Linked DNA regions of Homo sapiens. The protein of the gene in region 1 purifies or fractionates together with the protein of each later gene. This does not show direct contact. Each region holds a gene or a part of one and is shown on either strand. Other genes may lie near its edges. The genes, in order: PSMB2, SULT1A4, C11orf58, HM13, UBE3C, RNF138 and PSMF1.

What was found.
Region 2: the proteins of PSMB2 (region 1) and SULT1A4 fractionate together in Homo sapiens (co-fractionation; one large-scale study listed by BioGRID). This does not show direct contact.
Region 3: the proteins of PSMB2 (region 1) and C11orf58 fractionate together in Homo sapiens (co-fractionation; one large-scale study listed by BioGRID). This does not show direct contact.
Region 4: the proteins of PSMB2 (region 1) and HM13 purify together in Homo sapiens (affinity purification with mass spectrometry, with the first as the bait; one large-scale study listed by BioGRID). This does not show direct contact.
Region 5: the proteins of PSMB2 (region 1) and UBE3C purify together in Homo sapiens (affinity purification with mass spectrometry; one large-scale study listed by BioGRID and IntAct). This does not show direct contact.
Region 6: the proteins of PSMB2 (region 1) and RNF138 purify together in Homo sapiens (affinity purification with mass spectrometry, with the first as the bait; one large-scale study listed by BioGRID). This does not show direct contact.
Region 7: the proteins of PSMB2 (region 1) and PSMF1 purify together in Homo sapiens (affinity purification with mass spectrometry; 2 studies listed by BioGRID and IntAct, with this or other methods). This does not show direct contact.

Annotation. Positions count from the first base shown.
Region 1 is NC_000001.11:35,603,527-35,607,026, reverse strand, and holds part of PSMB2 (proteasome subunit beta type-2), read left to right. Parts: intron 1-1,744; coding exon 1,745-1,794; intron 1,795-3,500. UniProt on the Homo sapiens protein: Non-catalytic component of the 20S core proteasome complex involved in the proteolytic degradation of most intracellular proteins. This complex plays numerous essential roles within the cell by associating with different regulatory particles.
Region 2 is NC_000016.10:29,462,913-29,465,466, forward strand, and holds the end of SULT1A4 (sulfotransferase 1A4), read left to right. Parts: intron 1-432; coding exon 433-559; intron 560-654; coding exon 655-749; intron 750-1,247; coding exon 1,248-1,428; intron 1,429-1,550; coding exon 1,551-1,663; 3' UTR 1,664-2,054; downstream 2,055-2,554. UniProt on the Homo sapiens protein: Sulfotransferase that utilizes 3'-phospho-5'-adenylyl sulfate (PAPS) as sulfonate donor to catalyze the sulfate conjugation of phenolic monoamines (neurotransmitters such as dopamine, (R)-adrenaline/epinephrine, (R)-noradrenaline/norepinephrine and serotonin) and phenolic and catechol drugs.
Region 3 is NC_000011.10:16,745,147-16,748,646, forward strand, and holds part of C11orf58 (small acidic protein), read left to right. Parts: intron 1-2,950; coding exon 2,951-3,011; intron 3,012-3,500.
Region 4 is NC_000020.11:31,520,942-31,524,441, forward strand, and holds part of HM13 (signal peptide peptidase), read left to right. Parts: intron 1-3,500. UniProt on the Homo sapiens protein: Catalyzes intramembrane proteolysis of signal peptides that have been removed from precursors of secretory and membrane proteins, resulting in the release of the fragment from the ER membrane into the cytoplasm.
Region 5 is NC_000007.14:157,264,426-157,267,925, forward strand, and holds part of UBE3C (ubiquitin-protein ligase E3C), read left to right. Parts: intron 1-3,159; coding exon 3,160-3,330; 3' UTR 3,331-3,500. UniProt on the Homo sapiens protein: E3 ubiquitin-protein ligase that specifically catalyzes 'Lys-29'- and 'Lys-48'-linked polyubiquitin chains.
Region 6 is NC_000018.10:32,098,374-32,101,873, forward strand, and holds part of RNF138 (E3 ubiquitin-protein ligase RNF138), read left to right. Parts: intron 1-3,500. UniProt on the Homo sapiens protein: E3 ubiquitin-protein ligase involved in DNA damage response by promoting DNA resection and homologous recombination.
Region 7 is NC_000020.11:1,132,102-1,135,601, forward strand, and holds part of PSMF1 (proteasome inhibitor PI31 subunit), read left to right. Parts: intron 1-3,019; coding exon 3,020-3,205; intron 3,206-3,500. UniProt on the Homo sapiens protein: Plays an important role in control of proteasome function. Inhibits the hydrolysis of protein and peptide substrates by the 20S proteasome. Also inhibits the activation of the proteasome by the proteasome regulatory proteins PA700 and PA28.

The DNA.
Region 1 (3,500 bases):
GTGAGGGTCTGGTTTCATTCTTCTGTGTATGGATATCCAGTTTTTCTAGCACCATTTATTGAAGAGACAGACTGTCCTTTCCCCAATGAGTGTTCTTGGTACCTTCATCAAAAGTCAAATGTAGATATGTGGCTTAATTTCTTAATTTCTCTATTCTGTTTAATTGGTCTATGTGTCTATTTTTATGCCAGTAGCATACTGTTTTGGTTACTACAACTTTGTGATATATTTTGAAGTCTGGTAGTGGTATCAACTACCAGATTTGTTCTTTTTGTTCAGGATTGCTTTAGCTATTCAGAGTCTTTTGTGGTTCCTTACAAATCTTAGGATTTTTTTCCATAATTCTGTGAGGCATGTCATTGGCATTTTGATAGGGATTGCATTGAATATATAAATTTCTTTGGGTAGTGTTGTCATCTTCATAATATTAATTCTTCTGATCCATGAGCATGAGATGTATTTCCATTCGCTTGTATCCTCTTCAGCTTATTTCATCAGTGTTTTATAGTTTTCGTTATAGAGGTCTTTCATCTCCTTGGTTAAATTTATTCCTAGGTATTTTATTTTCTTTGATTTTTGTGTCTATTGTAAATGGGATTGCCTTCTTGATTTCTTTTTCAGCTAGTTTGTGTATAGAAATACTGATTTTTGTATATTAATTTTGTATCCTGCAACTTTATGGAATTCATTTATCAGATGTGAGAGTTTTCTGGTGGGGTCTTTAGGTTTTTCTATATAGAAGATCATGTCATCTGCAAATAGGGACATTTGACTTCCTGCTTTCCAATTGGGGTACTCTATTTCCTCCCCTTGCCTAAGTGCTCTGGTTAGGACTTCCTAGACACAGGGATGCTTTTGTGCTAAGTTCCATCTTCTGACCCCAGTCCTAACCTCGACTTTAGCCTCTGTGGGCAGTGGGTACTTTGGAATTCTTAGCTTTTACAGACTATAGATGAAGCACAGATAACCACTTCTCTCCTTACATTCCATTCTTCACTGTCAGTATCGTAAGAATCTGGCATGTTCATTCTTTTTTGGTGCTGCCCTCTCGCTCAACCTTAGCCACGCTAGAGCTCCAGGCCACATCCTGAAAAGAATTAGCCTGGCCTCCCAGTGACTTTCTTGATTTGGCATCTGTCAGTAATACAGCTGATTTGCCCACCAAAATAACTACTAGCCACCCCTGAAGCCTGAGTGCATAACATGTCGTCCCAGTTTGCCACGCCCACAGACAGTTCCTTTGGCTCCTATTTGGGGAGAGTCTCAGCCCCATCCTATGAATTCTCTTCCCATTGTTAAACAGAGACCCAGCTGGGAAAACAAGGCTGAAATTCTGACCCCATCGTCTCTTTCCCTGATTTGCAGCTGACTGGGGCAGATGGAATTGATTCAAACCCTGGACTAAGGGGGAGTGAAAGGGGTGGGTTATGATAAAGAGAGACAGGCTGCTGGACTTCTTCAGAGGTGGGCCCTGGCCAGGGGAGGCAGAATTCCTTCATGCTCACCCTTTACTGTAGCAAATCAATTTGCAATGGCTTATAGCTGCTGGAGCACTGGGTCTGGGGCCCCCCCAGCTGCATGTGGAGTAAGTTGATTGCAGGCTAGAAGGCAAAGCATTTTTTGCCTTTTACGTTTGTGTGGCACTGAGACCTGAAGAAGCCAGATTTGGAACTTAATCAAAAGCTTCTGAGAGTTGGATATAATGACAGCACCGGAAGTATTTGGTCTCTGTGTTCTCTTTCAGCTATCTCACGTGAGAGGGCAGTGGAACTCCTTAGGAAATGTCTGGAGGAGGTGAGTAGTTCCCATAGGATCCTGAAAGGAATGTTTGTCTCTCTGTTTGCCAGTGTTGTTCCTGTTCCTCAGTTATATTTTTTCAGATTTTTGCCAGAAGGTGTAATACATACCCACTAACCAGATGTGAAGTTGCTACCAGGGATAGAGTTTGGTGTGGATAGCAAGCTCACTTTTCTCTCACAGATTACCTCCTCAATGTCAGTTTTATAATTTAATTCTTTCTGGTTTATCCAAACCAGTGGTTCTCAAATTTTAGTGTGTGTAAGTATCACCTGGGAAACCTGTTAAACAGATTGCCATCTCTGCCCCAACCCTCAATTCTGAGTCCACTGTTCTGAGGTACAAACTGGGAAGCTCTGCTTTAACTGGCAGTCCCAGGTGATTTTCCTACAGGTGGTAACTGAGGCTGTACTTGAAGAACTTCTGCTCTAGACTTTATTTTTTTATTTGAGACGGAGTTTCGCTTTTGTTGCCCAGGCTGGAGTGCAGTGGCACGATTTCAGCTCACTGCAACCTCCGCCTCTGGGTTCAAGCAATTCTCTTGCCTTAGCCTCCCGAGTAGCTGGGATTACAGTTGCCCACCACCATGCCCGGCTAGTTTTTTGTATTTTTAGTAGAGACAGGGTTTCACCATGTTGGCCAGGCTGGTCTTGAACTCCTGACCTCAGGTGATCCGCCTGCCTCGGCCTCCCAAAGTGCTGGGATTACAGGCATGAGCCACCACGCCCATCCCTGCCCTAGACTTTATACCTGCTCTGTTCTTGTGCCACCTGTAATTGCCATACTGCCTGCTCCCTTAATAGTGCTCGAGTCTTTGTAATCTGTGAGAAAAAGCCTCCCCTAAGAATTCAGGAGGACCATAGAAAGCAACTAGGAAGCTTTGGGCAGAAGGGGAGAGTAGACTTTGGCTTGCGAGGACAGGATTACAGAACACACCCTTTCTAACACTACTCCTTAGAGTCTAAGGCTTTGGGTATAGATGGAGAATGGGGGAATGGGGAGGTCAAAAACCAGCCACATTAGTTTTTTTCATTCTTTTACTGTTCCTGTGGCTTAAGGATGAACTTGACCTCGTGGTTTAGTAAGAGAGTAGGAAGATAAGAGCAGGAGCGTTGGGAGTAATGTCAGTTTGCTTCTTACACAAACCTTTTGTTTTCAGTCCACAGTGCCCACCCCACCCCCCGCTTTTTTTTTTTTTTTTTAAGAGATGGATCTCACTTTGTTGCCCAGGCTGGAGTGGAGTGCAGTGGCACCATCATAGCTCACTGCAGCCTGGATTTCTGGAACTCAAGCGATCCTCCCAAGTAGCTGAGACTACAGACAGGCACCACCATGCCCAGCTCATTTTATTTTTAAGAGATGGGGTCTTGCTATGTTACCTAGGCTGGTCTTGAACTCCTGGGCTCAAGATATTCTTCCACCTCAACCTCCCAATTACAGGCCTGAGCCACAGCTCCTGGCCTCTGCTTCGTTCTGAGGACAATCACTCTTTGTTAGCTTATTATCTTGAGACATTTTAAGAGAGACGTCTGTGTTTACCAGACTGATGGGTAACAGACTATGGGGAACAGAACACTGGATTGTCTCATTCTTTCGTCAGCTGACTGACCAGAGACAGGCTCTTAGTTGCACCTCCCAGTTCAGCCTCCCTGCCTCCCAGTCATCCTCCAGCTGCTGTTTGGGTACCCTCTACCACTAGAGTA
Region 2 (2,554 bases), on another chromosome or scaffold:
ATTAGAGGCATGAGCCACCACGCCCAGCCTTCATCACATCTTGAGAGAGGACACTGTCTGCCTCTTGCTCTGATGAGGGTCTGATGCAAGGATAGTGAGTCTCTACAGTGCACACTTAAGAAAGGCAGCATGTGGGTGCTCACAGGTCAGCGGAGGAGGGGGAGCTGGTGGGGACCAGGCATGCCTTGCTCCAGATCAGGATATGATGGCATTGGTGCAGATTATATTAGTATAGAATATGGTCTCAGGAACCAGGCAGGACTTTGGCTTCCGAGCAGGGTTCAGATCCCAGCTTGGCCCTACCTGTGCAGTGAGATCTCAAGCAAGTCAGCCTCTAAGCCTCAGGTTCCTCCTTTGCCAGTTCAACAGATGAGCTGGCCTGGGGTGGGCTGTGTGGTGATGGTGCTGGGGCTGGGTCCTCTGCCCCTGCAGGTGGTCTATGTTGCCCGAAACCCAAAGGACGTGGCGGTCTCCTACTACCATTTCCACCGTATGGAAAAGGCGCACCCTGAGCCTGGGACCTGGGACAGCTTCCTGGAAAAGTTCATGGCTGGAGAAGGTGGGCTTGACTGGAGGAAGGAGGGTGTGAAGCCGAGGGGTGGTGGCTATAACGTACAGCAACCCTGTGTCGGTGCCCCCTGCCCGCTTCTCTAGTGTCCTACGGGTCCTGGTACCAGCACGTGCAGGAGTGGTGGGAGCTGAGCCGCACCCACCCTGTTCTCTACCTCTTCTATGAAGACATGAAGGAGGTGAGACCGACTGTGATGCTTCCCCCCATGTGACACCTGGGGGCAGGCACCTCACAGGGACCCACCAAGGCCACCCAGCCCCGTCCCTGGGCGGCTCCCACAGCAAGCCCGGATTCCCCATCCTACCTCCCTGGCCCAGGCCCCCCCACTGCAGCCCCACCTGGCAGCAGGCTCGGCACAGCTTTCATCTTCTGCACCTGAGTCAGCTGCATGGGTGGCCACGGATCAGATACTTAGTCCTATTGCTTATCCTCACCAAAGGGTGTGCCACCCAGGGCCACAGTCATGGAAGAAGACCATCCCGGTCCTCACCCATAGGCGCCAAGCCCTGTTCATGATGGGATCACAGGGCAGAGATCAATTCATTTTACTCCAGAGACTAGGGCCCCAGGGGTTGAGGCTCTTTGGGGTTTCTAGGGGAAGTGGCCAGATCCCCTCTGAGGTTAGAGAGGGGGACCCGTTTTGTTTTGCTCCACTGAGGAGCCCTCTGCTGCTCAGAACCCCAAAAGGGAGATTCAAAAGATCCTGGAGTTTGTGGGGCGCTCCCTGCCAGAGGAGACCATGGACTTCATGGTTCAGCACACGTCGTTCAAGGAGATGAAGAAGAACCCTATGACCAACTACACCACCGTCCCCCAGGAGCTCATGGACCACAGCATCTCCCCCTTCATGAGGAAAGGTGGGTGCTGGCCAGCACGGGGGTTTGGGGCGGGTGGGAGCAGCAGCTGCAGCCTCCCCATAGGCACTTGGGGCCTCCCCTGGGATGAGACTCCAGCTTTGCTCCCTGCCTTCCTCCCCCAGGCATGGCTGGGGACTGGAAGACCACCTTCACCGTGGCGCAGAATGAGCGCTTCGATGCGGACTATGCGGAGAAGATGGCAGGCTGCAGCCTCAGCTTCCGCTCTGAGCTGTGAGAGGGGCTCCTGGAGTCACTGCAGAGGGAGTGTGCGAATCTACCCTGACCAATGGGCTCAAGAATAAAGTATGATTTTTGAGTCAGGCACAGTGGCTCATGTCTGCAATCCCAGCGATTTGGGAGGTTGAGCTGGTAGGATCACAATAGGCCACGAATTTGAGACCAGCCTGGTAAAATAGTGAGACCTCATCTCTACAAAGATGTAAAAAAATTAGCCACATGTGCTGGCACTTACCTGTAGTCCCAGCTACTTGGGAAGCAGAGGCTGGAGGATCATTTCAGCCCAGGAGGTTGTGGATACAGTGAGTTATGACATGCCCATTCACTACAGCCTGGATGACAAGCAAGACCCTCCCTCCAAAGAAAATAAAGCTCAAAATAAAATATGATTTGTGTTCATGTAGAGCCTGTATTGGAAAGGAAGAGAAACTCTGAGCTGAAAGAGTGAATGCCCGGTGGGGCCACATATGGTCACCTCTCCCCCAGCCTTCAGCTCCCCAGGTCACCATATCTGGGGAGGGGAGAAGGGTTTGGAGAAGTAAAACCCAGGAGATGTGTGGAGGGGGGATGTCTGTTTAATCCCAGCACATCCTCTGCTGTCCTGCCCCAAGATGGTGGAGGACGTCGAGTCCGCCGGGCAGCGTCACTTTTTCTTGGGCTCCTTAGAAGCTACCAGGTACCTCTGGGCCACACTGAGATGAGGGGAGTAGCCGTCTGCATAGGAGGTGTCTTCAAACAGGATAGAATAGTCCTCCTGGGGCTGTGGGGCAGGTGGACAGGAAGGGCAGAGAGCAGCCCCGGGGCTGGTGTCACTCACTTGTTGGTGGCATGGCTGTAACTGACCACCTCGGCCAGGATCCACTGCTCATCCCCATCCACGGCCTTCACC
Region 3 (3,500 bases), on another chromosome or scaffold:
ATTTCTATAGTTTGTTACTAGATAGAGAAGTTTCTCTGAATGTGTAGAACACCAGGGGGAAAGAAAACCTTAATTTTAAAAATGTTCAAGATACTTTGAAATGCCTGTCAGTTTGGTTAACGTTAATAGAAGGTACAGTTGACCCTTGAGCAATGTGGGGGTTAGGGGTGCTGGTTCTGCAGGCAGTCAGAAGTTTGCATATAACTTTTGACTCCCCAACAACTTAACTACTAATAGCCTACTGTTGACTGGAAGTCTTACTGATAACATAATTATCAGTTAACACATATTTTGGGTGTTAAATGTATTATATCCTGTATTCTTACAATAAAGAAAAGGAAATGTTATCAAGAAAATTATAAGGAAGAGAAAATAATTGACTCTTCATTAATTGGAAGTGGATTATCATAAAGGTCTTCATCTTCATAGTTTTCATGTTGAGTGGGCTGAAAAGGAGGGATTGTCTTACTGTCTGGGAGTGGCAGAGGCAGAAGTATATTCAAGTATAAGTGGATCCACACAGTTTAATCCTGTGTTCAGGGTCAACTATATAAAACAAGTGCCAGGAAAATATCTATTGTAAAAACCTTTCTTTATCCTAGCAGTTTATACAGGGATCTCTAGATACTTAGTTTTTGTAAGCAAGTAAATTTATTTTCCTAACATTGTCCTAACAGACTTCCTACAAACTAAATTGAAAAGAAATAGGAAAGCTTTTTTTCTCTTTTTTTAAGCACATTAAAATGAAATTCTGCTCTTTGTTTTGTTATGCACATGGGAATACATTCATTCATTTTCCCAACAATTACAGACTACCTACTACTGTGCTGGATCCTGGGTGGTCATATAGATCAATAATACATGTTTGAAGCTATTATGTAATGGAGGAAACCAGATAATAGCAATACAGAATTGTAATTGCTGTGAGAAAGCCATGCACATAGTGCTGTGGAATCACAGAGGGCAGCTAACTCTGGTTTAGCAGTGCAAGAAAGCTTCCCCAAAATAGAATTGATCTGAATCTCAAAGGATGAGAAGGAGTTAGCCAGACTACAACAGTAGGTTTGGGGATAGGAAGAGGTCATGTAAAACACTGAGACCTATTTAAATAAAGCATTTGTATAATATCTCATTAATCGAGATTTCCCAATTTGTAATTTGTCATAGAAAATAGTCTGCAATTTCTCTTGTTTCATGCAAATATATTAAGTCCTCACTTAACATCCCTTGTGGTTCTTGGAAACTAACCTTTGGCAAACTGACAATAAAGTTGTTTCACTGTAACACTGATAAGGAGGAAAATTGTTTTCATTATAGGTTGTTTCAACTAAAATCAGTTAAAATCGAAGTTTCCAAGAACCTATCATTGAAAATTAAGTGAGGACTTAAAAGATTTGTTAAGGATATGTAAGGTAAGTGTTAGTTTAGGGGCCATATTCAACTTAGTAGAATGAAACTTATTCAAGTACTTAGGAAGAACATCCTAATATAAAATATATGGAAGTTGACTAACTAGTAAATAGGTTGTTCAGCATAGATTAAATTCTCTTTTTTTTGTTGTTGTTGTTTTGAGACAGTCTCACTGCAACCTCTGCCTCCCGGGTTCAAGCAGTTCTCTGCCTCAGCCTCCCAAGTAGCTGGGATTACAGGCACCTGCCACCATGACTGGCTAATTTTTGTATTTTTAGTAGAGTCAGGGCTTCACCGTTTGAACTCCTGACCTCGTGATCCACCCTCCTTTGCCTCCCAAAGTGCTGGGATTACAGGCATGAGCCACTGCGCCTGGCCCATAGATTAAATTCTTTGTGAGGCCAAGATTGTAGCTTTGATCTTCATATGGGGTGTTTAGAGGTATTCCATTTTGTGGCCACAAAGTATATTTGTAATCCTAGCCGGCTATCATGAATATTTTATTGGTCACAGGAAGAACCAGCTAAGAACATATGAATAGATCAGTGCAATACTGTCATCATCCTGGAATAACTTGATGCTGTTATATTAAAATCTTGTTAATGGCTGTCAGTTTTGCAACCTAAACTAGTAACACACTGAATTATTGATTTGCTTATGTGTTAATGGCACATAAAGCAATGAGCATTAACACTTGAAGTTTTTCGGTAGTATCATTTTTGTGTATGGAGACTGTATCTGCCATTTTTTCACAATAGGAAGGTTTGTTACTGTATCTTCACAGATGATTGGTTAAGATTGCTTTCCAAAGTCACATTTATTCTCACCTTCACATGGTGTTTTAATGAGCACTTATGAAACTAAATATGAACCATAAAGAGTGGATTGGACTGATTAAATTGAGAGTAATTATGCAGTTTAATCAGTTGGTAATATTGAATCATATGTATTTTTATGTTTAGAGTACAGGATTGTTTTAAATTGTTCTTTTTGACAAGTTGAGATTAGTAGTTTATTGTCAAATAGTAAAGAGATAGCTAATGATTGTGATATACTGTAATAAGATCTATCACTTTATATGATACATTATAAGTTTCAATTATTTCATTTTTGTCAGGCTAAATCTCATTTGCTTTCTCTCCATGAGATATACTTGAGGCAGCAGAAAGAGCAGGTGGGAAGTTAAAGCAACTCATTTAACTGGCCTTTAGGAAAGAAAATGTTTAGATTGACTCAATTTTCTAGTTATCTATTCATCTTATTTAAAATTCCAACCTGCTCTACTCCTTACTCAGGTCTGTTTTGTTTTAATCACACTTAGTACTTTCTAACATAGTATAAATAGTGATTACGTTTGCCTGTCTCCCTTCCCCATTCCTACCCTTGCTAGAATGTAAGGTCCTTAAAGGCAGAGATTCTAATTTAATCTTTTGTCTTCACTGTGTCCCAGAAGCCTAGAATAGTTTTCAGCACATAGTAGATACCCAATAAGGTTAAATTAGTGGTCTCAAATGCTAATACATTTTCAACCTTCTTATAGAAAGAACATACTGGTCGTCTTGTTATAGGAGATCACAAATCAACATCTCACTTCCGAACCGGTAAGAAAGTAAAGTGTAATTAAAATGGAAGTGCTAAATTCAGAATATGAAGTATGTGTTCATGTTTCAGGATATTCTACTTTGGCATGTAATTGTGTAAATTATTAAAATATTATAATTAGAGCTGGGTGCAGTGGCTTAATGCCTGTAATCCCGGTTATTTGGGAGGTTAAAGTGGGAGGATCACTTAAGCCCAGGAGTTTGAGGCTGCAATGAAGCTATGATTGCACCACTGCATTCCAGCCTGGGCTACAGAGCAAGACCTCATCTCTTAAATTTAAAAAAAAAAAGGAGAGAAAAAAATGCTGGGCACCTTGGCTTATGCTTGTAATCCCAGCATTTTGGGAGGCTGAGGTGGGCCGATCACTTGAGGCAAATCACCAGCCTGGTCAACATGGCAAAACCGTGTCTCTACTAAAAAAAAAAAAAAAAAAAAAATTAGCCTGGTGTGGTGGCTCACACCTGTAATCCCAGCTGCTTGGGAGGCTG
Region 4 (3,500 bases), on another chromosome or scaffold:
GGCATCTGTCCTCTCTTACAGCTTTTGTTTCCGCTCTGATAACAACATCCAGAATGTCACTGGAAGCTACATTTACTTCTGCTGTTTGTGTCAGGTTTTTCCCCCACTTTCTAATTGTGTTTTATGTTGCAGGATCTATTGTATTTACATACACAAATCTGGTTAAAAAATCGCAATTGGATTGGTAAAGAATCCTAGCAACTTTTTAGTATTTTTGTAACTACAAAGATTAGCTGTTCAGTTACCTTCAGGATTCTGTTCCTCAGAAAGGTTGCAGGCTTCCCAAGTATCTTCCTGTTAAAACTTTCCAACCGAAATTTCCAGATAGGAAAGATAGAAATCTTCTAGGAAACAGCTCCCAAGAGTTTGGGGTCTGGAACTGGACTGCCTCAGTTTCAGTCCTGGCTCTGCCACTCACCAGCTGTGTGACACTAAGCAAGTTACTTCACCTCTCTAGACCTCCGCTTCCTCATCTGTAAAAGAGCTATTAAAAGTACCTGCTGGCCAGGCGTGATGGCTCACGCCTGTAATCCCAGCACTTCGGGAGGCCAAGGCAGGCAGATCACAAGGTCAGGATCTTGTGACAGACCATCCTGACTAACATGGTGAAACCCTGTCTCTACTAAAAATACAAAAAATTAGCTGGGCGTGGTGGTACATGCCTGTAGTCCCAGCTACTCGGGAGGCTGAGACATGAGAATTGCTTGAACCCAAGAGGCGGAGGTTGCAGTGAGCCAAGATTGCACCACTGCATTCCAGCCTGGGCAACAGAGCGAGACTCCATCTCAAAAAAAAAAAAAAAAAGTACCTGCTTTGTGGGGTTTTTGTGAGGATGAAAACATGTAAAGTACCTAGAACAGTGCAGTAATGTTATTGTTATTACTATTATCGTCAGATTTCAGGTCTCCCATTCTTTTTTTTTTTTTTTTTTTAATGGAGGCAGAGTATCTCCATGTTGCCCATGCTGGTCTCAAACTCCTGGGCTCAACCGATCTGCCCACCTTGACCTCCCAAAGTGCTGGGATTACAGTCCAGTCTCCCATTCTGACTCAGCATTGCAGCATGGGATATTTATAAGTCACCCGCAAAGGAGACCAGAGTCCTCTGTGTAATGGAGAGGATCTGTCCAACCTTGGTTTGTCACTGAATAAGATTAGGCCTCTTCCCACCCAGGGTGCTGAGCTGAATTGAAAGGAATATGTGGAAATGAGCCATAATGCTGGTTTGTAGGTGAAGCCACAGAGTCCTGCGTGTCCTTTGACAGCCCTGAGCCTCTGCATGTGCATATCTTTCTGCCTGATAAGCACTTCCTTTCCTTGTACACAAAGCACACTCCTCAAGCCGGGCATGGTGGCTCACACCTGTAATCCCAGCACTTTGGGAGGCCAAGGCAGGCAGATCATCTGAGGTCAGGAGTTTGAGACCAGCCTGGCCAACATGGTGAAACCCCATCTCTACTAAAAATACAAAATTAGCTGGGTGTGGTGGCAGGTGCCTATAATCCCAGCTACTCAGGAGGCCGAGGCAGAGAATCACTTGATTTGTAGTGAGCTGAGATTGTGCCATTGCACTCCAGCCTGTGCAAAAAGAGCAAAACTCCACTAAAAAAAAACAAAAAAAAAAAACTGACAAGCTGACTCCTAAACCCAGTCAGCATTTGTCTGGCTCCAGACTACCAGACACTGTGCTTGACCATCAAGGCCTTGCTTAAGTGGTACCTGCTCTTGCCACCTCTGACTCCCTTACTTCTCTGCAGAAATAGTGTCTTGTTGGCTGTGTCGTGATTCCGTTTTGCATAATAATGATACAAATGGTGTATACGGTTTAAATGATGACTCGAGATACAATGCTGAGTACTTCCAAAGCAGAAATCAGAATCCTCACAACTTGTTTTACAGCTGAGGAAATTGAGGCTTAGAGAAAAAAAAAATCACTTTCCCAAGGTCCCACAGCTGGGAAGTAGAGCTGGGAGTCCAAATGGACTTCCTGATCTCAGAGTCCCTTCATAACTGCTGATGTTCATACTGTGTGTCACAGTGATATACATGTCTATTGCATCATGTGTCACACTACATTATAATAGCCTGTTTGGGGTTTTTTTTGGGAGGGGGGCTTTTTTTTTTTTATGAGACAGAGTCTCGCTCTGTTGCCGAGGCTGGAGTTCAGTGGCACGATCCCCACTCACTACGGCCTCCACCTCCCGGGTTCAAGCAATTCTCCTGCCTCAACCTCCTGAGTAGCTGGGACCATAGGCGCACAATATCACACCCGGCTAATTTTTGTATTTTTAGTAGAGACGGGGTTTCACCATGTTGGCCAGGCTGGTCTTTTTTTTTTTTTGAGACAGAGTCTCGCTGTCCACCCAGGCTGGAGTTCAGTGGCTCAGTCTCGGCTCACTGCAACCTCCACCTCCCAGGTTCAAGCTATTCTCCTCCCTCAGCCTCCCAAGTAGCTGGGATTACAGATGCACACCAGCACGCCCAGCTAATTTTTGTATTTTTAGTAGAGACAAGGTTTCACCATGTTGGCCAGGCTGATCTCGAAATCCTGACCTCAGGTGATCCGCCCGCCTCCATCTCCCAAAGTGCTGGGATTACAGGCATGAGCCACCACGCCCAGCCAGTTTTGCTGTGCATTCCATAAAATAGAATACGTGTTCCCTGTAATATGTATCATGTCACAGTATTAACCTACCTGCCTGTGAGTGTTTCAAGATCAGGAACTCATTTTTGTACCCATACTACTGCTACACAGGAAATGTATTGAATGTGTGGAGATGCTCAGAGGGGATGAGGAACTTGCCCAAGTCCCACAGCACACTGCTGGCAAAAGCAGAAGCCAAGGGTTGGGAGAGAATAGGGAAGGAAGGAAACTGGGCCTCTCATGTGGGTATTGTTCACCCACCCCACTCCCACCTCCTAGCAAAGCTGTCCAAGTGACTCACATGGAGCTGCCTCCAGTGGCTCCAGAGGGGAGGGTCTCCCTTCCAGCCCAGAGCCTGGGCTGCCTCAGCCATGCATAGGCAAGGGTGTGGTTAGGGGCCTCCTCACTCACCTCTCCCTGATAGTCACAACCCCCAATACAGGCACAGTACTTTAGTTTGCCAGGCTGTTTCGCATCCCATATCTTATTTGCTTTAAGACTCCTATGGGGCTGGGTGTGGTGGTTCACGCCTATAATCTCAGCATTTTGGGAGGCCAAGGCAGGAGGATCACTTGATGCCAGGAGTTCAAGGCTGCAGTGAGCTATGATCCTGCCACTGCACTCCAGCTTGGGCAACAGAGAGAGACCCTGTCACTTTTCTTTAAAAAAAAAAGAAGGCTCTTGGACCTTTTTTGAAGTGAGGCTAGAGATTGTCCTCCTGTTTGACAGAGAAGTAAACCCAGTCACTCAGCAAGCCGTTAACAGAGCAAGGAATACCTTGGATACACTTTATGTGTAGCATTTTACTTATTTATGAACTATATCTGTAGGGAGAATTCCCACAGATGGAATTGCTT
Region 5 (3,500 bases), on another chromosome or scaffold:
TGGTACTACAGGTGTGAGCCAACATGCTCGGCCTGTTACACACACACACACACCTGGTACTACAGGTGTGCGCCAACATGCTCGGCCTGTTACACACACACACACACACCTGGTATTACAGGTGTGAGCCAACATGCTCAGCCTGTTACACACACACAAACATATATATTTTTAAGACAGAGTTTCACTCTTATTGCCCAGGCTGGAGTGCAATGCGTGATCTCGTCTCACTGCAGCCTGCAACCTCTGCCTCCTGCCTCAGCCTCCCGAGTAATTGGAATTATTACAGGCATGCACCACTACAGCCGGCTAATTTTTTATTTTTAGTAGAGATGGGGTTTCGCCATGTTGGTCAGGCTGGTCTCAGAAATCCTGACCTCAGGTGATCCACCCGTTGTGGCCTCCCAAAATGCTGGGATTACAGTCATGAGCCACTGCTCCTGGTCACGTAATTTTTAAATATAATTTTAGCTGTATCTTGTGTTCAGTTTTCTAGGCTACCTTTTTCACTCAACATTACATCAGGATCATTTTTCCTCATGTTATTCTTTGAGATATTTTTAATGGGCTTGTAGTGTCCCATCATGTGATTTACCAGTTTACTTTCTGTTTTTTAGTTGTTTACAGCTCTTCCTTCGTTGTGATGCTGTGAACCTCTTGTGCATAAATTATCATGTGCATCTCTAATTATTTCTTAGAGTACAGTCCCAGGAGTTGTGAATGTGGGTGAAGCCCCTGCTCCTGCTGCCAGGCCCACCTCTCAGAGAGTTTCGTGTACACGTGTGCAGGGAAGGGCTGACCTAGCTAGGTCTCTGAAACCCGTGCCAGATACTAAATCTGCACAGGCTGCGACAGTGAGCAGACTGAGGGCGATCTGTGCCTTATTGTCTTCCTGTTGGAAGAGAACACATAAATCACGTATCTCAAATGTGAGGCAAATAGCTAATGGTGTTTGTGTATACGAGGAAGGTGGAGTCACCGGTTCTTCGTGGCCATCAGAGGACCGACACGCCCATAGGTCTCATGCATTAAGTCTGCGTTGAGCAATCCCTAACACGGTTTTTGCCTACAGATACATTTGCACAACTGTGAAAACCAGGTACGTATTCATTGCATCATTTTTTGTAAAAAGCTGAGAGAAGTGCCCAGCAACACGTCGTGCCGCGCGTGTGCATGGAACACCATATAGCCTCACCATTAATAGGCAAGATGAGCGAGACCCATTATCAGATGAGAAAAGCACGGCACGGAATACTGTGTCCAATGTGCTCACCGTCTCAATTTTAAACCTAAAGGAGGGAGAACATTTTCTCATGCGTGCATTTCATCTCTGGGAGCACTTAAGACGCTGAAGCGTTGGTTGCCAGTGGGAATGGGAACTGGGTATCTGTGATACAGGGATGAGAATTTTCACACTGTACCTTTAAATACCAGAACGTCATGAACACATCTGAAAAACAATATTCAAATTTCCCTGATCATCTTTCTTTTTTGTTAACAATTATTTAAATTCTGGCACAAGCAAGCCACTTTTCATCATGCATTTGGTCTATAGATGTTCTACCTCCCTCAATTTCGTCTTGTAATTTAATGAATAGGGGAACTGGGGCCGGGCACGGTGGCTCACGCCTGTAATCCCAGCACTTTGGGAGGCTGAGGCGGGTGGATCACGAGGTCAGGAGATCGAGATCATCCTGGCTAACATGGTGAAACCCCGTCTCTACTAAAAATACAAAAAATTAGCCGGGCGTGGTGGCGGGAGCCTGTAGTCCAAGCTATGCGGGAGGCTGAGGCAGGAGAATGGCGTGAACCCGGGAGGCGGATGTTGCAGTAAGCCGAGATTGCACCACTGCACTCCAGCCTGGGTGACAGAGCAAGACTCCGTCTCAAAAAAATAAATAAATAAAAATAATAGGGTAACTGGGTTGCTTCTTTGTATCTCTTGAAAACTGATAGAGGTCTCATCAGATTCTAAATTTGAATTTTTCTTTTTTTGGCAATAACATCACATAGGTAATGTCGTATGCTTCCCATTCCCTTAATCATCGTGGAGATCCACTTCTCGTGAGTCATCTCCCCACAATGCTGGGATCGATCTCTGCGTCAGAATTCCTCTTGATTTTAGTGGTCACTTATCACTGCCTAGATCCATTGTTTAATGTGCTTCTAAAACAGCCGTGTTCTAATTACATAATTGTATAATTTATTAGCTGGAATTTTCTATTTAAAAACAGCTTTGTTTCTTCTCACCAATGATTTGGTTAACCCGAGTAATAGCTTGTACAGGAAAGATAGAATAAATCTTGATCCTTTTTAAAAAATTTTTATAGACAGGGTCTCACTGTGTGTTGCCCAGGCTGGAGTGCAGTGGTGTGATCATACCTCACTAACCTCGACCTCCTGGGCTCAAGACATCTTTTCACCTCAGCCTCCCAAGTAGCTGGGAGTATAGGGGCAGACCACCACACCTGGCTAATTGTTTTGATTTTTATTTTTAGTGGAAATGAGGTCTCGTTATGTTGCCCAGGCTGGTCTCGAACTCCTAAGCTCAAGCCATCCCCCAGCTAGGCCTCCCAAAGTGCTGGGACTACAGGTGTGAGCTATGCGCCTGGCCTGGAATGTTATTTATCCCTTTTTATGCCTGAAGCACAGTGCATAATCTTTTATGTAAGTTAGAACTAAGCCATCAATGTAATTTTTTAAAAAAGCAAATGTGGGCCAGGCACGGTGGCTCACGCCTGTAATCCCAGCACTTTGGGAGGCAGAGGTGGGCAGATCACAAAGTCAGGAGTTCAAGACCATCCTGGCCAACGTGGTGAAACCCCTTATCTAGGAAAAATCCAAAAATTAGCCAGGCATGGTGGCAGGCACCTGTAATCCCAGCTACTTGGGAGACTGAGGCAGGAGAATCGCTTGAACCTGGGAGGCAGAGGTTGCAGTGAGCTGAGATGGCGCCATTGCCCTCCAGCCTGGGCGACAGAGCTAGACTCCATCTCAAAGAAAACAAACAACAACAACAAAGCAAATGTGGTTTCGGGAAAATGTGACTGCAATGGTAACTTTACTGATTGGAGCAGGCACATTTTGTGTACTTTGTATTAAAACTCATGTAATGCCATGCTTGTTACAGTGACATCTTGCACACATGCTGTTTTTCAGGAGTTGTATCCCGCATTTTGTATTCACAACGGAGGCTCCGACCTTGAGCGGCTCCCCACAGCCAGCACCTGCATGAACCTGCTGAAGCTCCCCGAGTTCTATGACGAGACACTTTTGCGAAGTAAACTTCTCTATGCGATTGAATGTGCCGCTGGCTTTGAGCTGAGCTGAAGCTGATGCTGGGGTCAGACCCCTACAGAGAACCAGTGCTTCCTTCGTCAGCAGCGCCTCCCCAGACCCACGAGGATACTCACACTGCACGCCTGAGGCTCTCCTAAGCTCCTTCTTTCATTCTGCCATTCCTCCCTCCCTTCCTTTTTTAAATGATTTTTATTACGGTG
Region 6 (3,500 bases), on another chromosome or scaffold:
CCTGGTCTCAAGCAGTCCTCCCACCTGAGCCTCCTGAGTAGTGGGGACTACAGGTGAGTGCCACAGCACCTGGCTTTGTAATTTTAACAGCTTTATTGGTATCTTGTTACTTGAGTAGTTATGCTCTAAGTATATACTTTAAAATAATTTTCTTCTTTCCTAAAATCTGTGCTATTTAATTATATAATAAAGGTTGAGGCCGGGCGCAGTGGCTCACGCCTGTCATCCCAGCACTTTGGGAGGCCGAGGCAGGCGGATCACAAGGTCAGGAGATCGAGACCATCCTGGCTAACACAGTGAAACCCTGTCTCTACTAAAAATACAAAAAAATTAGCCGGGTGTGGCGGCAGGCGCCTGTAATCCCAGCTGTTCGGGAGGCTGAGGCAGGAGAATGGCATGAACCCGGGAGGTGGAGCTTGCAGTGAGCTGAGATGGTGCCACTGCACTCCAGCCCGGGCGACAGAGTGAGACTCCGTTTCAAAAAAAAAAAAAAAAAGATTTACTTAATTTTAAATCTTGAGGACTAGTTTACAACCTTTGATTTTTTTTTTTTTTGAAGTTTTTTTGGGGAATGATCTCGATTATCGACTCGGAAAATAGATAGACTAAGTGCCAGATTTTAAATTATTTAATTTATACTGAAATTGGGAGCATGATGAGTGGGAATATTGTTTTTCCTCTCCCAGTGTTGTTGATTAGCCTTTTGTTGGGAGAATGCGTAATGGAAATTCGTCTAGCATCTGCTAGTTTAAAGTTGAGAGAAATGTAAAGAGACCTTTTTTGGTTATAGGGTAATGCCCTGTTCTGAAGATACGGGCCTTTTCAGGAACATGAAAATTAGTTTTAGTAATTCTTGATTTGTACCTTTTTCCTTCCTACTTCTGCTTTGTTTTGAAATAAGTTCTGTCTAGCACTTTGATCCATTCCAGCCCAAAGTGAGATGAGAATAATTCGTTTTATGTCTGAAGAAACATGCTTGGTTGTACAGAGGAAGGAACAGTAAAATTGGAGATAAGAGACCTGAATATCTCTATTTTATTTTATTTTTAGACAAAATCTCGCTCTGTTGCCCAGACTGGAGTGCAGTGGTGCAGTCTTGGCTCACCGCAACCTCCACCCATTGGGTTCAAGAGATTCTCCTGCCCCAATCTCCCGTGTAGCTGGAACTACAGGCATGCACCACTATACCCGGCTAATTTTTTTGTATTTTTAGTAGAGATGGTGTTGCACCATGTTGGTCAGGCTGGTCTCCAACTCCTGACCCCAAATGATCTGCCCCGCCTCGGCCTCCCAAAGTGCTAGGATTACAGGTGTGAGCCACTGCACCCGGCCATTCTTTGTACCTGTTATCACAGTTTGTAATCATAACATTTTTGGAATCAGATAATTTGACCAATGTCAGTTTCACTGGTTAGGCTGCAAGCTTTATAAAGAAAGCATCCAAGATCTCCTGTTACTTACTTAAGCCTACTAATATATCGTTTCACATATGAGAGTTTTTCCTGCCAGCTAAATTCTGACAAATGGAATTGCTGGGTCAAAGGGTAGATACAAACAAATATTTCTGATACATCACACAAGAATAATTGCAGCTCTAGTGAAGTGTCTTGTTCATGGAAAGTGCTCAAGGTTTTGATTTGAGAACTGTCAATTATATCTTTTGGTTAAGGGATTTAATACTTTTTAAATTAAGGTAAATTGGCATTCATTGCTTTAGCAAATATTAGGACTGCCTAATAGGTGCCTAGCACTGTTAGGTGCCAGGGATATTGTAAAGAGCAAATAGATAGGATCCCTGCCCTCTTGGAGCTGGGTGTTAGTGATTGAGATATATATATATATATATATAAAATCTTTGGTTGTACAGGGGAAGGAACAGTAAAATTGGACATAAGAGACCTGAATACCTCTATTTTATTATTTTATATATATATTTGAGACAGGGTCTTTCTCTGTTGCTCTGTTGCCCAGGCTAGAGTGCAGTGGCATGATCATGGCTCACTGCAGCCTTGACCTCTCTGGGCTCAAGTAATCCCCCTTTAGCCTTCCCAGTAGCTGGGACTACAGGCATGTGCCACCACCACACCCAACTAACTTTTTTTTTTTTTTTTTTTTTTTTGAGACGGAGTTTTGCTCTTGTTGGCCAGGCTGGAGTGCAATGGCGCGATCTCGGCTCACTGCAACCTCCGTCTCCCGGGTTTAAGCGATTTTCCTGCCTCAGCCTCCCAAGTAGCTGGGATTAAAGGCATGCGCCACCAGGCCTGGCTAATTTTGTATTTTTAATAGAGACGGGGGTTTCACCATGTTGGTCAGGCTGGTCTCGAACTCCCAACCTCAGGTGATCCACCCACCTCGGCCTACCAAAGTGTTGGGATTACAGGCGTGAGCCCCCGCGCCCGGCCTGTATTTTTTGTATAGACTGGGTTTCACCATGTTGGCCGGGCTGGTCTCGAATGCCTGAGCTCAAGCGATCTGCTCGCCTTGGCCTCCCAGAGTGCTGGGATCACAGGCCTGAGCCACTGCGCCTGGCCTGAGATATATTTAAATTAAAATAAATGCTCAGAAAAATGGTGTAATTACAAATGTATAGGTTTCGAGAGAGTATAAGAGAGGGATCAGATCTAGTGGGTGAGTATCGATGACCCTTTCTTTAGGAAGTGATATTGTTGCTGATATCTAAGAGAGATATAGGTATTAATTTGTGGAGGGCTGTGCTCGTGCATAGAACATTCTGGGGAGAAGAAACATTCTGGACAAAGGTCCCGAGGTAGGAGGGAACATGCAGGGCTTTGTATTTGAATGACAGAAACATCTTCTGGGCTTCAACCTCTTATAGGTTTCTTTTTTTTTTTTTTTTCAAAGACAGAGTCTGGCTCTGTTGTCCAGGCTGGAGTGCAGTGGCACACGCAGTCTTGGCTCACTGTAACCTCCGCCTCCTAGGTTCAAGCCATTCTTCTACCTCAGTCTTCTGAGTAGCTGGGATTACAGGCGTGCACCACCACTCCTGGCTAATTTTTGTGTATATATATATATTTTTAAATTAGAGTCAGGGTTTCACCATGTTGGCCAGATTGGTCTTGAACTCCTGACCTCAAGTGATTTGCCTGCCTCACTCTTACAGGTTTATTAACATTTTATTTTTTTAAGCCTTAGTTTCCTCATCTGTAAAATGAAGGAACTTATTAAGAAAAATTTATTTTTTTTTAAGAATTCAAGATCATGAATGGATAGTTTCTGGGATCCAGCCTAGCACCTAGCACATATTATGTACGCAATAAGTGTTAACTGCTATTTTCATAAATGTCATGTTGCTTTCCCAAAAATTGAGCTAATTTACAAAATGCCATTAGTACTATAAAAGTATATTTGTAATCCATCATCTTTGCCAATTTTGTTTTTTTAAGCATTTTTATGCTATTTTAATACAGTTCATAGTGGTGTCTAGAAGTCACATTAAAATGTATTTCTTTAGTTGCTAGCAAGGCTGCATGCATTTTTCC
Region 7 (3,500 bases), on another chromosome or scaffold:
TTTTCCATTGATCTCTATGTCTCTTCCTCTGTCAATATTACTCTATCAGTATTGATTATTGTAGGCCTTAATATTGAGTAGAATAATTCCTCCCACTTTTTCTTCGTCAAGGTAGTTGTAGCTATTCTAGGTTCTGTGCCTTTTCTTTTTTTTCTTTTTTCTTTCTTTTTTTTTTTCTTTGTTTGAGACAGAGTCTCACTGTGTCTCAAAAAGGCTCAGGCTGGAGTGCAGTGGTGTGATCTTGGCTCACTTCAACCTCTGCCTCCGGGGTTCAAGTGATTCTCCTGCCTCAACCTTCTGAGTAGCTGGGACTACAGATGCGTGCCACCATGCCTGGCTAATTTTTTGTATTTTTAGTAGAGACGGGGTTTTACCATGTTAGCCAGGATGGTCTCGATCTCCTGACCTCGTGACCCACCCATCTTAGCCTCCCAAAGTGCTGGGATTACAGACGTGAGCCACCGCACCTGGCCTCTGTGCCTTTTCATATAAACTTTAGAGTAAGCTTGTGTATATCTATGAAAAACCTTGCTAGGATTTTGATAGGAGTTGCATTAAACCTATAGATTAGTTTGGGGAGAATTGACATTCTTGCTATGAACATGATATATCTTATCTCTCCATTTATTAATATTTAGGTTTTATTTGATTTCCATCAGTATCATTTGTAATTTTCAACATATAGATCCTGTACATAGCTTGTTATTTGTTTAAAGCAGAAAGGGAGATGATTATGAATGGCATATTCTGTCCTTTGTTTTGGTTTTCAAATGTTCATTGTTAGTGTGTAGAAATGTAGTTGATTTTCCTGTGTTGAACTCTTCTATCCTGTCACCTTGCTGAATTCAAGGTGTTTAGGGTTTTTTTGTTTTTTTTTTTTTTTGGTAGATTCCTTGGGAATTTCAGGGTAGACTATCATGTCATTTGCAAATAGGGACAGTTTTATTCCTTACTTGCTAATATGAATGCCTTTTGTTTTTCTTGCCTTATTGCAGTGGTCAGGATGTCCAATATTATGTTAAATAAGAGTGATGAGAAAGAATATGCTTTCCTCGTTCCCAATCTTAGGAGCAAAGCATTCAGTCTTTCACAGTAAAGTATATTGTTAGGGGTAGGTTTTTTGTAAATGTTCTTTATCAGGTTAAAGAAGTTCCCCTTTATTCTTAGTTTGTTGAGAGTTTTTAATCTTGAATGGATTTATCATGTTGGATTTTGTCAAAAGCTTTTTTCTGTATCAATTGATATGATCATATGATTTTTCTTCCATAGCTTATTGATATGGTAGATTACGTTGATTGATTTGTGACTATTAACCAGTCTTGCATGCCTAGAACAAATCATACTTGGTCATGGCATATAGTTCTTTTTATACATTTTTAAATTCAATTTGCTCATATTTTGTTGAGGATTTTTTTTGTGTGTAAGTTCATAGGATATACTAGTCTATATATGTGTATATATATATATATTTTTTTTTTTTTTTTGGTGTAGTCTTTGCCTGGTTTTGATACCAGAGTAATACTGGTCTCATGAAATGGATTGGAACGTATTCCCTCCTCATATATTTTCTAGAAGTGACTGTAAAATTGGTGTTAATTCTTCTTTGAATGTTTGGTAGAATTCTTCCTGAAATCATCTGAGCCTGGAGATTTTTGGTTTTTGTTTTTTTATTTTATTTTTTTAGAATGTTAAGTGTAATTCAGTTTCTTTAATGGAACTATTCAGATTATCTATTTCATTTTGGCTGAGTTGTAGTTTATGGTTTTTAAGAATTGGTCTATTCTGAGTTGTTGGATTAAGTTGTTCTTAGTATTCTCTTATTATCCTTTCAGTGGCTACAGATCTATTGTAATATCTCCTGTTTCGTTCTTGTTATTGGTGACTGTGTCCTCTCTTTGTATTTGTCAGTCTCGCCAGGAGTTGGTCAGTTTTATTCTTTTTTTTTGAAGAATTGACTTTGTTTCATTTTCTCTCTTGTTTTTCTTTTTTATTGACTTCTGTTCTTACCTTTATTACTTCTGCTTGCTTTGAGTTAATTTGCTCTTCTTTTTCTAGGTTCTTTAGGTCAGAATTTTGGTTATTGATTTGAATTCCTTCCTCTATTTTGATGTAAGCATTTAGTGCTATGAGGTTTCTTCTCAGCAATCCTTTAGTTATATCCCACATATTTTCGTATGTTTTTATTTTCATTTTAATTCAGTGCTATATATTTCTTTTTTGTGACTTTGATCCAAGGATTTTCTAGAAGTATGTTGCTTAATTTTCATGTATTTAGAGAGTTAACTTTTTGTTTTGATTTCTGTTATGATTCCATATGGTTGGAGAACATACTTTATATGATTTCAGTTATTTTACATTTGTGAGCTTTGCTTTATGGGCCAGGATGTGGTTCATTTTAAAATACCAGTGTTTTAGGAAGCCTGGAGTCCTGCCCACTCTGTTACCTCAGCCTGCCTCCACACCTCAGCTGTGGCTCACGTCACTTGTCTCTCACAGGCATAGAAAAAGAGGCCCAGGCAGGATGGGACAGGTGGTAGGGGCAGCCTTCCGAGGACCCCTGAGTTAGTGACAGAACTGGACCTTGAACCCCCAGAGCTCTGCCTGCCTGGAACAGGAACCTGGTTCATCCTCCCCATGGAGCCTTTGCCTTCCATGACCCTTCCCATGACACGTGATGAACACACAATGAAGCTGAGGGAGGGGTGAGGCGGGTGAGGACAGAGGAGTAGCCAATCCAGGCCCTGTGCCCCTACACCCTCACCTCTTTCTAATGGGGTGGTAAACAAGGAGGGGCAACTCAGATGCCTAAGAAGCTTGGGCCCAAATCTCAGAGACAGCGTGGGGCTGTTGCCCCCCTCACCCAGGTCCAGCAGGCGGCCTGTTCCCCCACTTATAAACAGGCCAAGCGCAATGCCAGGAGCTATCAGGGCCGCCGCCGCCGCCGTCGTTGCAGCCAGAATACCACTTCCAGGGTTCCTAGCCAACTGCAAGCAGTTGACTCTTCATCTGCTTCCTGCAGGACCTACAAGAACAGTGAGGAGCTTCGGTCTCGTATTGTGTCTGGAATCATCACACCTATCCATGAGCAGTGGGAAAAGGCTAATGTAAGCAGTCCCCACCGGGAGTTCCCCCCTGCTACCGCCAGAGAGGTGGACCCACTCCGGATTCCTCCACACCACCCACACACCAGTCGGCAGCCTCCCTGGTGAGTACAGAGTGCCTAGCGGGAAGCCCATGCTTCTGTAGAGGGATTCCAGCCAGCTATCCCCATCCTGCCACTTGACCCCATCCCTGGCCCGTATGTGTTTTCAACAAAATGATCAGTGTCTTGGGGTGCATGGAGTTAGAAAGTGGAGACGTAAGTGGAGCAGTGAGTTCTTGAACTGCTACTAGTCACCCTAATTACCCAAAATCCTAAGCCTGCCTGATTTCTTTCTAGGGGCCACACAGAGCCCCTGAGTCTGTCCAAGGATCAGTGCCTCTGGGGCTTATGTGCAGTA